2 linked regions of the Homo sapiens genome follow. The protein of the gene in region 2 interacts with the protein of the main gene of each other region in a biochemical or structural test. Each region holds a gene or a part of one and is shown on either strand. Other genes may lie near its edges.

Region 1 (6,262 bases), on a different chromosome or scaffold from region 2:
AGAGGAGACTCTGGCATCTAACTCATAGTGTTCTCTACTCCTACTCCTGCTGCCCTCCTGGAGTTCTTTCACTTTCCACATGGGTTGTATAACCAACACCCTAGAATCACAGGCCATGGACCCCTTATCTCCAGAATAGTCACCTTCTGTCCCCTTCAACTACCTACTCTCTGGACCTTATCATCACCTGGAGCTCCACCTCCTCTGTGTTCTTAAGTGCAACTGTCTGAGCACCAATACCCTCTCTCACTATGCGACTTCTCGCAATGTCACTCCAAGACACCTAGCAGCATATCTATCACATGAGAGTCACTTAAGTGATATTTATTGAATAAACTATACTAGTTCTTGGGTCTCGTGTTCATTGATCCTGCCTTTGTATCCCAATCCAGTAGCTAGATCTTCCCACATTTCCACCTGCTGAAAGCTGATCTACCCTTCAAACTACAGCTGAGGTCCTGTCTCTCCCACATAAACATGTTGCTCGCTCCCCAAATATAGGGAAAAAAAGAAGCAGAGAGCACATCTAATTCACTTTGCAATTTCAATGTTTATTTCTGATACCAAAACTTGACAGCACACAAGGGGAAAAAAAGCAGTAGACAAGGAACAGCAAATAAATTTATCTTGCATGCCACTTTCAGTCAACAGGATGTGGCTCTCTAGATAGCTGTGTTTAGAAGGAATCTGAGGCTTCAGCCTCACACAGGGGAAAGACTACTGCGATTGATAGCAATATCTGTGAACATAAGAAAGAAGAAGTAAAAAAATCAATGATATATATCAAATAATAAGGAATATACATACCAAAGAGTGCTGCCCCATACTTTCCTCATCTCCCTACAATGAGTTTCCTAATACTTCTAGCTCATGCACATAAATACAACCCCATGGACCCTATATCCCCCAGAGACCCTAACTGCCCAATCCAAAGTGATGTACCTACCCAACATCTCACTCAACCCAGAAGAAACCAATGGCACCAAAGTTGGCAGCGAAGTTGGCACTGGCTGTACCACCAGGACCAATAATGGGACCGGCAAAGGTCTGAGGGAATCTGGAGCGGGCATTCTGGTGGTATCTGGCCCAGAAGGTAAATGGAATTCTGGACCAGGGATCTCCAAAATCTCCTTCCTCATCCCAGGTCAGCAGCTCAAACTCAATGTCATCCCAGCTCCAGGGCCCAGACACAGCCTCATCTCCAATTCCCATGCGGGTTCTTGCTTCAGCCCGGGCTTCGGCCTCAGCTGCAGCAGCATCCAGAGCATCCAAGGCCTCATCTGCAGCCTCCATGAACTGTGCAGTCCAGTCACGAGGGTCTCTTTTCTGAACCTGAGATGAGGAATAGAAAACAAAACAAAATCCATTTACAATAGCCAAGATATGGAATCAACCTACCTGTCCATCAGTGGATGAATGGATAAGGACAATGTGATACACACACACACAATGGAATACTATTCAGCCTTTAAAAAGAAGGAAATTCTGCCATTTGCAACAACATAGATGATGCTGGATGACATTATGCTAAGTGAAATAAGCCAGACACAGAAAGACAAATACTGCATGACCTCACTTATACATGGAATCTAAAAACGTCTAACTCATAGAAGCAGAGAGTAGAATGGTAGTTTCCAGGGCCTGGGGTCAGGAGGGATAGGGAGATATCGGTTAAAAGGTACAAAGTTTCATTTAGATAGGAAGAATATGTTCTGGAGATCAACCGTATAGCATGACGACTATAGTTAATAATAATGTGTCGTTTATTTAAAATTGCTAAAAGAGTACATTTTAAATGTTCTCATCACAAAAAAAATGTCAAGTATATGAGGCTATGGAGAGTTAACTAGCTTGATGTAATCATTCTGCAATGTACATGTATTATCAAAACATCATACTGTACCCCATAAATATGTATATTTTTTATTAGTCAGTTAAAAATAAATGAATGGGCCGGGTACGGTGGCTCACGCCTGTAATCCCAACACTTTGGGAGGCTGAGGCAGGCAGATCACTTGAGGTCAGGAGTTTGAGACCAGCCTGGCTAACATGGCAAAACCCTGTCTCTAATAGAAAAATAAAAATTTAGCCAGGCATGGTGGTGGCACGTGCCTGTAATCCCAGATACTTGGGAGGCTGAGGCACAAGAATCGCTTTAACCTGGGAGGCAGAGGTTGCAGTGAGCCAAGATTGCGCCACTGCACTCTAGCCTGGGCAACACAGCAAAACTCCATCTCGGGAGAAAACAAATAAATAAATAAATAAAACAAAATACTTAAAAATTACATTGTACACCACAAATATATACAATTTTTGTCAATTATAATTTAGTAAAGTTGGGAAAAAATAAAAATACTTTAAAAACCTAAAAAAAAACCCAAAACAAACTCATAATTGTATTAGCTAATATATTAACATATGTTAGCACCTAATACATGTTAAGTTTACCTAACAGCAACAACAAATACCACCAGCAATGCGGCACCTACCACCTGCCACACCTAGGATCTCATTCCTACCCTGGGCCTTTCCCAGCCAGCTATACTTCATCCCTTGACCTATCAATGCTGGAACAGTTCCTCCATTACCTCTGCAATGAATCTCAGCACTTTCATCTTGCTAGTCTCATGGTAGGAACGGAGGCCCCAGAGGAACTCATACTCCGGGGGGTTGCTGTTGGGCACTCGTCTGTAGTCCAGGTATCTGAAAGAGCAAAACAGTCTTTGTGTCTACCTACCCAGGCAGAATGGTAGTCCACTAATGAAAAATAATCTTACATTTTTTAACAGATTTCAGATAGCAACTCCCCCTTGGGCTCATTCCTGAACACCATCAGGGTATTTACCCCTTAATCATCAAGCCTTAAATTCCTGCACTAGAACGCTAAGCACTCACTAGAGATGCAGGCGAGGCTTGTATAGGGTCACAGAAAGGACAACATTTCCTTTCACTCCTTCTGCCTCAGCTCTAGCTCCAGATTCTTGTAATCTTGTCAGTGAGCCACAGAGGTCCATTGAAATGAGTACAATGCAGTGCAAAAGTGTCAGCCTGGCCCAGCCTTGGGAATGTCTACTGTGGGGATGGTGGATGGGCTTCACTTGCAAGACAACTGCTTAGAAAAGTAGAAAAATTAGAAAAATTCTGGCCGGGTGTGGTGGCTCACACCTGTAATCCCAGCACTTTGGGAGGCAGAGGTGGGTGGATTGCTTCAGGTCAGGAGTTTGAGACCAGCCTGGCCAACGTGGTGAAGCCCCATCTCTACTAAAAATACAAAAACAGCCGGGCACGGTGGCACGCACCTGAAGTTCCAGTTACTCGGGAGGCTGAGGCACAAGAATTGCTTGAACCTGGGAGGTGGAAGTTCAAGCGAGCCAAGATTGCACCACTGCACTCCAGCATGGGCAACAGAGTGAGACTCAGTCTCGAAAAAAACAAACAAAAGAATTCGCCCGGTACGGTCGCTCACGCCTGTAATCTCAGCACTTCTGGAGGCCAAGGCAGGCAGATCACCTGAAGTCGGGAGTTTGAGACCAGCCTAACATGGAGAAACACCGTCTCTACTAAGAAGACAAAATTAGGTGGGCGTGGTGGCACATGCCTGTAATCCCAGCTACTCAAGAGGCTGAGGCAGGAGAATAGCTTGAACCCAGGAGGCAGAGGTTGCGGTGAGCCGAGATCACGCCATTGCACTCCAGCCTGGGCAACAAGAGCGAAACTCCGTCTCAAAAAATAAAAAAATAAAAAATAAAGAATTTAACCATGAGGAGTATATGCAATAAATACTCCTGAGGACATAAGTGTTTCTGTATGCACAGAAACACATATGCACAAGTATAGTGTAAGAAACGAGCTTGAGAAGGGCTTTCTTTTATTTTTTTTGAGACAGGGTCTCACTCTGTTGCCCAGGTTGGAGTGCAGTGGCATGATCACAGCTCACTGCAGCCTCAACTTCCTGGGCTCAGATGATTCTCCCCTACCTCAGCCTCCCAAGTAGCTGGGACTACAGGTGCATGTCACCACGCCTGGCTAATTTTTGTATTTTTTTGTAGAGATGGGGTTTCGTTATGTTGCCCAGGCTGGTCTTGAACTCCTGGGCTCAAGCGATCTGCCCACCTGAGCCTCCCAAAGTACTGGGATTACAGGCATGAGCCATTGTATCCAGCCAGGAAGGGCTTTCTAAAGCTGACCAGCACACAGGCAGAATCATAAGAAGCAGGAAAAGCCCCTTAGGCATCACTTACTTCTGCTTTACAAACTCATAGGTGAGAAGTTTCCTTAGATCTCCAAGGAGGGGATGTCTCACCCTGAAGGTAAAAAAAGGAAACCCACAATCAGAGGCTATTACCATGCCCAAAGAGCTTTCCAGAACAGAGGTCAGAGATGAGAAAAGAGGCAGAGAGTTCAGAACTGTTTCCCCATCCACCCAGGTCACATCTTTGGGCTCTGAACATCCCCAAACCAAACCCTCCAGACCCCCAGGTTAATGCAATCCTGGGACCATCCACTGTTGCCAAAGGATGGCACAAACAGGCAAGAGATGAGAGAGCCCAATCATACCCAGGACGCAGTCCCATCTTGCGTAGTGCCTCCCAGAGGACAGCTGCAATGGGAGGCAAGGGGAGACAAGGGACGGAAAATAAGCATGGAAATCAGGCTGTGGCCAACCCCCAGCTGCAGGTCCAGCCACTCACCCTCACTGGCACGGTTGCCATTCATGAAGATGACACCCAGAATCACCAAGAGGAGACCGAGCTTGGGTGTGTCTTTGGTCCTAAGGGAATATAGAAAGAATATATTTTCAGTAGCCATTTGCATGAGAGACCCCAACCAGCTTGCCCATCTAGCCTCCCCAATATTCCTCAGCTAGGGGAGAATTATACCCCAGCTCTGCCCATGACCTGCTATGTGACCCTGAACCCTGGACCCTGATCTACGTGAAACTCCTAGAAAAAAAGCACCACTGAGAAAGGCCATGTTCCACCTTCTTTCCCATCTTACGTTCCCAGTATGCCAGCCAGGGACTCGGGGGTACTGATGAGAATATACAGGTGTTCTTCTTTGTCAATTTCTTTCAGTTGAATCCCAAATTTCTACAGGGGCAAGAAAACAGACTATGAAATTACAACATCTAGCATAAGCTACCCATAGGCAGACACTCATCTCCCTGAGACTTGCCCTAAACTCCCAGTAGGAACCCCATGAATCTTTGAAATCAAGACTTTCCCCATTATTCCTGTACCCCAGGGCTGCCTTCTCACCTTCTCTAGGACAAAGCATGCACGTTCAATGATTTCTGGATAAACATCAGTGTATTCACGGATGATATCTCTCAGCATTTCTGTAGGAGAGAGGAGGGAGCCATCTGAGCCGAGCGGGGGCCACAGAGCAGCAGTCCCTTTGCCAGCCCTGCTGGGGGTAGCACAGTCAAGGTCCTCAAGGGTGGAAAGAGCCAACCATGGAAAGGAGGGGATAGAAGGGGAAGGGTCATACAAGCAGAAGAATGCCGACAGAGCATGGAGTGAAGGGAAGGGCAGAGCTACAAGCAGAAGAATGCTGACAGAGCATGGAGTGAAGGGAAGGGCAGAGCTTGGGGAGGGGACACTGGATGCATACCTGAGCGCTTGATGGGCACCTTTGTGTAGTCCTTAAGCATCAAGTACTTGACCAACTTATTTGCCTGGGAGGGAAAAAGGAAATCATTAAACTTATAAAATATTTACAAAAAAACTTGGTTGAATTACAGATGAGAGGATGACAAAGAAAAGAGCAAGAGAGGGGAAAAGTGACTGGGGAGTTACAGCTCTTACTCTTTCCTGAAGAAGGGCCACATCTCGGGGCTGTGCAGCACCTGGGTTCTGTGAGGCACGCGAGTTGGGAGAAGGGCGCAGGTTAGGCGAGGGGCGCAGGTTCTGCCAGTCAGGTGGAATTGGCCAATCAGCGGGGATCCAGTCAGGTGGTAGTGGCCAGTCAGTGGGAAGTGGCCAATCAGGTGGCAGTGGCCAGTCGGGTGGTAGCGGCCAGTCAGGAGGACCTTGCCAGTCTGGAGGACCCTGCCAGCCCGGTGGGGTCTGCCATCCAGGTGGAGTCTGCCATCCAGGTGGATTCTGCCAGGCCAGTGGATTCGGCCAGACAACAGGGCCGGGCCAGACAATGGGGTTTGGCCAGATCACTGGGTTCTGCCAGATTACTGGGTTTGGCCAAATCACTGGGTTCTGCCAAGCGACTGGGTTCTGCCAGGCTGGTGGGGTCTGCCTAGCTGGAG
Region 2 (6,875 bases):
GGCGGGCGGATCACATGAGGCCAGGAGTTCGAGACCAGCCTGGCCAACATGGCGAAACCCCACCTCTATTGAAAACACAAAAAGTAACTGGGCATAGTGGTGCATATCTGTAATCCCAGCTACTTCGGAGGCTGAGACAGAAGAACCACTTGAACCAGGGAGGTGAAGGTGTGATCACACCACTGCACTCCAGCCTGGGTGACAGAAGGAGTACTCTGTCTCAAAACAAAACACCCCACAAAAAAGCCCCCAAACCAGTAAATATAACCATCCTTTCCCTTTTTTCCCTTGGGGCAGAAAACTTAATGAAAACTAAATACAAGAGAAGAAAAGGGGAGAGAAGGTTCTGTTGTTTTCCCCAAAGGCCTAGATACTTTATAGTACCTGAGAACTAGCTAATTTGCAATAAATCTCTACTTGTTTTTCCACCAAACTCTATGCATTGCTTTAACAAGCTTAAAGCCACTTAATTAGACAATTTACTACAGTGTTCCCATCAATGAAATGAAAGGAACCCTGTTTTATTATTTTATCCACAACATCTGAGACTAAGAACTGGAAAGGCAGGGAACTGACCTACCTTTGCTGTTATGTTATTAGCGTATCTTTTAAAATCTTGTGCAAAACAGCTTGTGCTATGATTTGGGGACCATAACAATAAGTACAACTTCTTCTCTTGCCTTTGATTCAGACTTCTTTTCAGGCTATGCTACGACCTGACCTTGCAGGCAGCCAAGCCTGGCAGGCTTCTCCTACACACAGGTCCCTGAAGCCAGCCACAGTCTTACCACTGAGTTTATATGGGTCCCTCCCCATGCAACTGGCCCCATAAAGAACTATCAAATGGTTTAGAATATGTCTAAGACTGCTTTATAGTCTTCTTGCCCTTTCTTCAGGTGCTTTAATTCGTCCTCCCCATCCCACCTGCCCAAGACTGCAGTACTGACAAGCTATTCAGAAGTCATAAATTAATCCACAACAATTGAATCTAAAGGAATAACACTTGCCCACTGAGTTATCTTATGAGGTTGTGTGTATGCAGGGATCAGATTAAGTAATGTATGTGAAATTAACTAATAGTTATGCACAAAAATAATTTATTTTTGTGTGTATTATTCAGGTTATTATTCAGGTGTTCGTGTTTTAATTTGTTAAACTTCCCACAAACATATGCTGTTGGAAAGGGCCAGGCAGGGAAAGATCAGTGCTCAAGCTAAAAGAATGAATGCTTAATGTGGACTTTTAGGCACTAATACCTGGATAGAAGAGGTATTTGGAGGCAGAGATGTTTTCTTGGTGTTCCTCAAACCACAGCATACAAGTAACCCTTTATAACACTCCCTAATCTAGCAATTAAATTTGTGCCTAGACATGAATTCCTCCTCTGACTTGAAGAACTACTGCTCTGGGAAGGAACTAAATAATCCAAATCTTAGCACTTGATCATACAGCCCATATGGATGTTCTTTATACGATGACTGCTTCATTGTATAAATCCTCTCTCCCCACTCAAGCCTTAAACTCTTCGAGCGCAGAAATTTTATTTGTCCTCATTGTACACCAAACAATGTTAAATACTCAGTAAATACCTGGCAGACTGAATTGAGGCAGTACGGCTTATAGGAAAAATCTACCTGAACACACATGAGACTCAAAATACTTCTTGAATTTACATCATGACCAACCATCCACTTTTACTGCAAAGAGAACTTTTCATACAGATTATTTCCAAAACCCAAATGGTTCCCAGTCATCACAAGCTTGTCCCTGACCCAGTTCTCCTTCTCAACCTGATTGCAATCTAACTCCCTCCTCCCTTCCCTCGTCTTTTCAAGATGCACCACGCTGGTGCATCTTGAACCGTGCCAGGAACGGTACCTCATCTTTCCCCTTAAAATATTTTTCATTTGCAACTGCATTAATAAAGACGACAGGCAGCCTCTGGAGAGAACTCTGAATACCTGCCCGACCCACCTCAGGGAGTGCCACTCGGCCGTACCGAGCCTCACAGGAGAAATGTGGCCCAGCCCAAGCCGCCCATGTTCCTCAGAGTTGGGAAGGAGGAAGACATTTCTACGTGAAAGTTTGATTGCTTTAAGGGACAAAACCCAAAATTTGCAATCGTTTTCAAAACAAACTCGAGAAAGTTCAGGCGCCGGGCCCTGCCTCGGCTTCCCGGCAGCTCGCGGCCCCCGCCACCGTTCCCCGACCTGGCACCGCGGGGCTCTGTGCGCCCTAAACGGGATCTGGCCAGCCCCCGCCCTCCCCTCCTCGACACCCCCGCATCTCCTCACGTTCCCTGCGCGTCCCTCTCCTCCCAGTCCCCGGCCCAGCTACCCGCTGACCCAGGCCTCTCTGGACGGGGCCCGCTTCTCGCCCCACAGGCCGCGGGTCAGGGCCTCCGTCCTCGCCCCAACCCTTGTGGCCCCCCCGGGCTCCCCAGAGCCGAACTCTCTTTTCTTCCTTTCTCCCACTCGGCCCCTATTTCTCCCCCAAACACCTCCCACCGCAGACCCTTCAGCCGCTCGCGCCAGAACCGCTTTCTCCCTTCTCTCCCCAGGAATCCACCCCCCCCACAGACACTTCGCTCCTCTTCCTGATGCCCGCCTCCTCTCTGCCATTCATTCAGCCCAGCAAGACACCTTCCTCCCTCCCCGGAGCCCCGCTCCCTCCAGCCCCTGCCCTCCGCTCCACAGGACCCCTTCCCCCGTACCTCGCACCCATCTTCCAGCAGCAGCCACCCGGCGCTCATCCCCACCCGCCGCAGGCACCAGCTCCGGCCACCGGCGCGGTCTCCTGTGACGAAGAAGCCGGGCTCCCCCATCGCCTACTCGACCCCGGGGGCGGTCAGCACCGAGCGAGACCCTGACCTAGGTTCTGGCTGCCTCTGTGCATCCCCTCAGCTTCCATATCTAAATAACAGACAGAAGCAATCGCCACACGCTCGCGATCGCTGCGAAAGCAGGCTCCGCTCGCCCGCCCTCGGCCAGGAAGCAGGAGCACTACGCCTGCGCAAGAGGACGGCGGCCGCCCTGGAGCAAAGAGGGTGGGTTGGGAGCCAATCCGGCCCTGGGCGGGGCGGGCGCGATTCGAGAGGTCTCCTCGCCTCACACCTTCCCTCGCCGCCTCCAGAACCATCACCCCAGTCCTAGCCGCCCCAGACTGGAACCTCTTCTCACCTTTCCTCTTTTTAAAAAAGTCATGTGAAACTATAGCCCACTTTTAAACAACTTTAAACTTTCCATCGGATTTAAGTCTGCCTAGTCTGTTGCTAAATAGTCTCTATTTTGCACGACCTACTTATATTACCGAAGTAAAAAATAAATTACACTAGGCAAATCTACAAAGACAAAGAGCACAGTTACCTGGGGCGAGGTGTGGGAGCGGGTATTGAATGCAGATGGGCTTGAAAAAATTGGAGGAAAGCGGTAATAGAAATGTTCTAAAAGTGGATTGTGGTGACAATTGTACAACTGTATAAGTTTATTAAAAAGTCATGGAAGTGTGGCCGGACGCAGTGGCTCACGCCTGTAATCCCAGCACTTTGGGAGGTCGAGACGCGCGGATCACTTGAGTTCAGGAGTTGTGACCAACCTGGCCACATGGGGAGACACCGTATCTACAAAAAAAAAAAAAAAAAAAGGAGGAAGGGAGGGAGAGAAAGGAAAAAAGAAAAAAAAGAAAAATTAGCTAGGTGTGGTGGTGCACACCTGTAGTCCGGCTACTTGGGAGGCTGAGGTGGGAGGATCACCTGACCCCGGGAGGCAGAGGTTGCAGTGAGCCGACATGGCGCCACTGCATCCCAGCCTGGGCGACAGAGTGAGACCCTGTAAAGTGAAGAAAGTGTAAACTTCCAGTGGGTGAATTTTATGGCATGTAAATTATACTCAATAAAGCTGTTAATTTTATTATTATTATTACTGATTACAGACAGGGTCTCGCCCTGTCACCCAGGCTGGAGTGCAGCCTGGAGTGGTGCGATCTCAGCTCACTGCAACCTCCGCCTCCCGGGTTCAAGAGATTCTCCTGCCTCAGCCTCCAGAGTAGCTGGGATTACAGGCACGCGCCACCACGCCCGGCTAATTTTTATATTTTTTGGTAGATACCGGGTTTCGCCGTGTCTCCTGGATTCAAGTGATCCAACCGCCTCAGCCTCCCAAAGTGCTGAGATTACAAGCATGAGCCCCCGAGCCCGGCCAATTAAAAAATTGTTTTTAAACTCAGCCTCTCCTTTGGATTTTCCATATAGTGTGATAGCTGCTGCCTGCAGTGAGTACATCCAATGGTTGAGCCCCTTTTGTCTTTTCAGTTTTCCAACACCCAGTTAACAATTTCTTTCTTCTTTCTTTCCTTCCTTCCTTCTCTTTCTTTCTTTTCTTTTTTCTTTCTCTTTTCTTCTTTCTCTCTCTTTCTTTCTCTCCTTCCTTCCTTCCTTCCTCCCTTCTTCCTCTCTTTTTTTTTTTTTTTTGCACAAGGGGAAAGAAGGAAAACAATTTTCCTAAATAAAATTCTGTCAAAAAACCAGCCGGGCTGGGCATGGTGGCTCATGCCTGTAATCTCAGCACTTTTGAGAGGCCGAGGCAGGCGGATCACCTAAGGTTGGGAGTTCAAGACCAGCCTGACCAACATGGAGAAACACCGTCTCTACTAAAAATACAAAGTTAGCCCAGCGTGGTGGCGTGTGCCTGTAATCCCAGCCACTCAGGAGGCTGAGCCAGGAGACTCGCTTGAACCCAGGAGGCAGAGGTGGCGGTGAGCCGAGATCTCGCCATTGCACTCCAGCCTGGACAACAAGAGTGAAACTCCATCAAAACAACAACAACAAAAAAAACAAAAACAAAAACAAAAAACACACACACAGCCAAGTGTGGCGGCTCACGCCTGTAATCCCAGCACTTTGGGAGGCCGAGGCAGGTGGATCACCTGAGGTCAGGGGTTCCAGACCAGCCTGGCCAACATGGTGAAACCCTGTCTCTAGTAAAAATACAAAAATGATCTGGGCATGGTGGTGAGCACCTGTAATCCCAGCTACCAGGGAGGCTGAGGTGGGAGGATCCCTTGAGCCTGGGAGGCAGAAGTTGCAGTGAGCTGAGATCACACCACTGTACTCTAGCCTGGGTGACTGAGCAACACTCTGTCTCAAAAACAAATACACAAACAAAACAACAAGAAAAGAAAATACATACACTAAATGAATTACACAGTGTACAATAGTAAATAGCTAACATTTACTGAGTGCTAAGTGCCAGGTACTAGGCGAAGCACCCTACATACTTTATTTGTCCTTTGCAAACAGAAAGAAAAAAGAAAAATTAGCCAGTTATTAGTGGTTACAATTATAATCCCTATGTTAGAGATGATGAGAAAAGAGGCACAGAGAGGTTTTGGTAATCTTCCCAAAGTAACAAATGAAATGGCAGAGTAGGATGTCAATTCAAGTCTGTTTCAAAAGCCTAGTTTCCTAACCATGGGTGCAATCCCAACCTGGAACATTTTATCTGTGTTGTGCAGTCAGATCAAGAAATGCAGGCCCTGACATCACAGAGGGCCAGGAACTTTGGTGAAAGTCATAGCTGCACTCATGGAGATGCTTCCCTAAGCTGTGCATAGGTATCTGTTGGTGCCCCCACCCCACCTTAGCATTCTACCCCAGGAACAGCAAGCACACCTAGAAGCCACCCTGACATTTAGTCTGTGTGTCTCCTTAGGCTCCTCTTGGCTGTGATAGATTCTCAGACTTTCCTTGTTTTTGATGACCTCGACAATTTGAGGAGTACCAGACAGATATTTTGTAGAATGTCCCTCAACTGGGATTTGTCTGATGTTTTTCTCATGATTAGACTGGGGTTATGGATTTGGGGATGGAAGACCACATAGGTAAAGTGTCATTCTCATGGCATCATATCCAGGGTACGTGTTATCAACATGAACTATCATTGTTGGTGTTCATCTCGATCACCTGGCATTTCTTATTTCTTGATATGACAGTACCACACAGATAAAACGTTCCAGGTTGGGATTGCAACCATGGTTAGGAAATTAGGCTTTGGAAATCTAGGTAGTGTTTGTCAGGTTTCTCCACTGTAAACTTACTTTTTTTTTTGAGACAGAGTTTCACTCTTGTTGCCCAGGCTGGAGTGCAATGGCTCAATCTCGACACACTGCAACCTCCGCCTCCTGGGTTCAAGCGATTCTCCTGCCTCAACCTCCCGAGTAGCTGGGATTACAGGCATGAGCCACCACGCCCGGCTTATTTTGTATTTTTAGTAGAGACGGGGTTTCACCATGTTGGCCAGGCTGGTCTTGAACTCCTGACCTCAGATGATCTGCCCACCTTGGCCTCCCAAAGTGCTGGGATTACAGGCGTGAACCACTGTGCCAGGCCTTTTTTTTTTTTTTTTTTTTTTTTGAGATGGAGTCTCACTCATTGGCCCAGGCTGGAGTGTAATGGTGTAATCTCAGCTCACTGCAACCTCCACCTCCCAGGTTCAAGCAATTCCCCTGCCTCAGCCTCCTGAGTAGCTGGGACTACAGCTGCATGCTATTATGCCTGGCTAATTTTTGTATTTTTAGTAGGGATAGGGTTTCACTATGTTGGCCAGGCTGGTCTCGAACTCCTGACCTCAGGTGATCTGCCCACCTTGGCCTCCCAAAGTGCTGGGATTACAGGCGTAAGCCACCACGCCCAGCCTAAACTTACTCGTTTTTTTTCTCGTTTTCCACACTGTACTCTTTGGAATGAAGTCACTATTCCTGGGCCAAATTTAAGGAGTGAGGAATTATGCTCCATTTCCTTAACTGCAGGTTCTCTACAGAAACTGTATGGAATTCTGCACAGGAGTTTGTCTCTCCTCCCCTGTTGATTTATCAACAGC

What was found. Proteins that work in one complex are often made in the same cells at the same time.
Region 1: the proteins of RNF8 (region 2) and MAGED1 form a complex in vitro, tested with the Homo sapiens proteins (one study listed by BioGRID).

The regions. Positions count from the first base shown.
Region 1 is NC_000023.11:51,896,623-51,902,884, reverse strand, and holds the end of MAGED1 (melanoma-associated antigen D1), read right to left. Parts: coding exon 5,808-6,262; intron 5,678-5,807; coding exon 5,614-5,677; intron 5,339-5,613; coding exon 5,259-5,338; intron 5,091-5,258; coding exon 4,999-5,090; intron 4,772-4,998; coding exon 4,692-4,771; intron 4,601-4,691; coding exon 4,558-4,600; intron 4,305-4,557; coding exon 4,242-4,304; intron 2,704-4,241; coding exon 2,589-2,703; intron 1,333-2,588; coding exon 955-1,332; 3' UTR 947-954; intron 740-946; 3' UTR 531-739; downstream 1-530. UniProt on the Homo sapiens protein: Involved in the apoptotic response after nerve growth factor (NGF) binding in neuronal cells. Inhibits cell cycle progression, and facilitates NGFR-mediated apoptosis. May act as a regulator of the function of DLX family members.
Region 2 is NC_000006.12:37,350,114-37,356,988, reverse strand, and holds the start of RNF8 (E3 ubiquitin-protein ligase RNF8), read right to left. Parts: upstream 3,007-6,875; 5' UTR 2,825-3,006; coding exon 2,714-2,824; intron 1-2,713. UniProt on the Homo sapiens protein: E3 ubiquitin-protein ligase that plays a key role in DNA damage signaling via 2 distinct roles: by mediating the 'Lys-63'-linked ubiquitination of histones H2A and H2AX and promoting the recruitment of DNA repair proteins at double-strand breaks (DSBs) sites, and by catalyzing 'Lys-48'-linked ubiquitination to remove target proteins from DNA damage sites.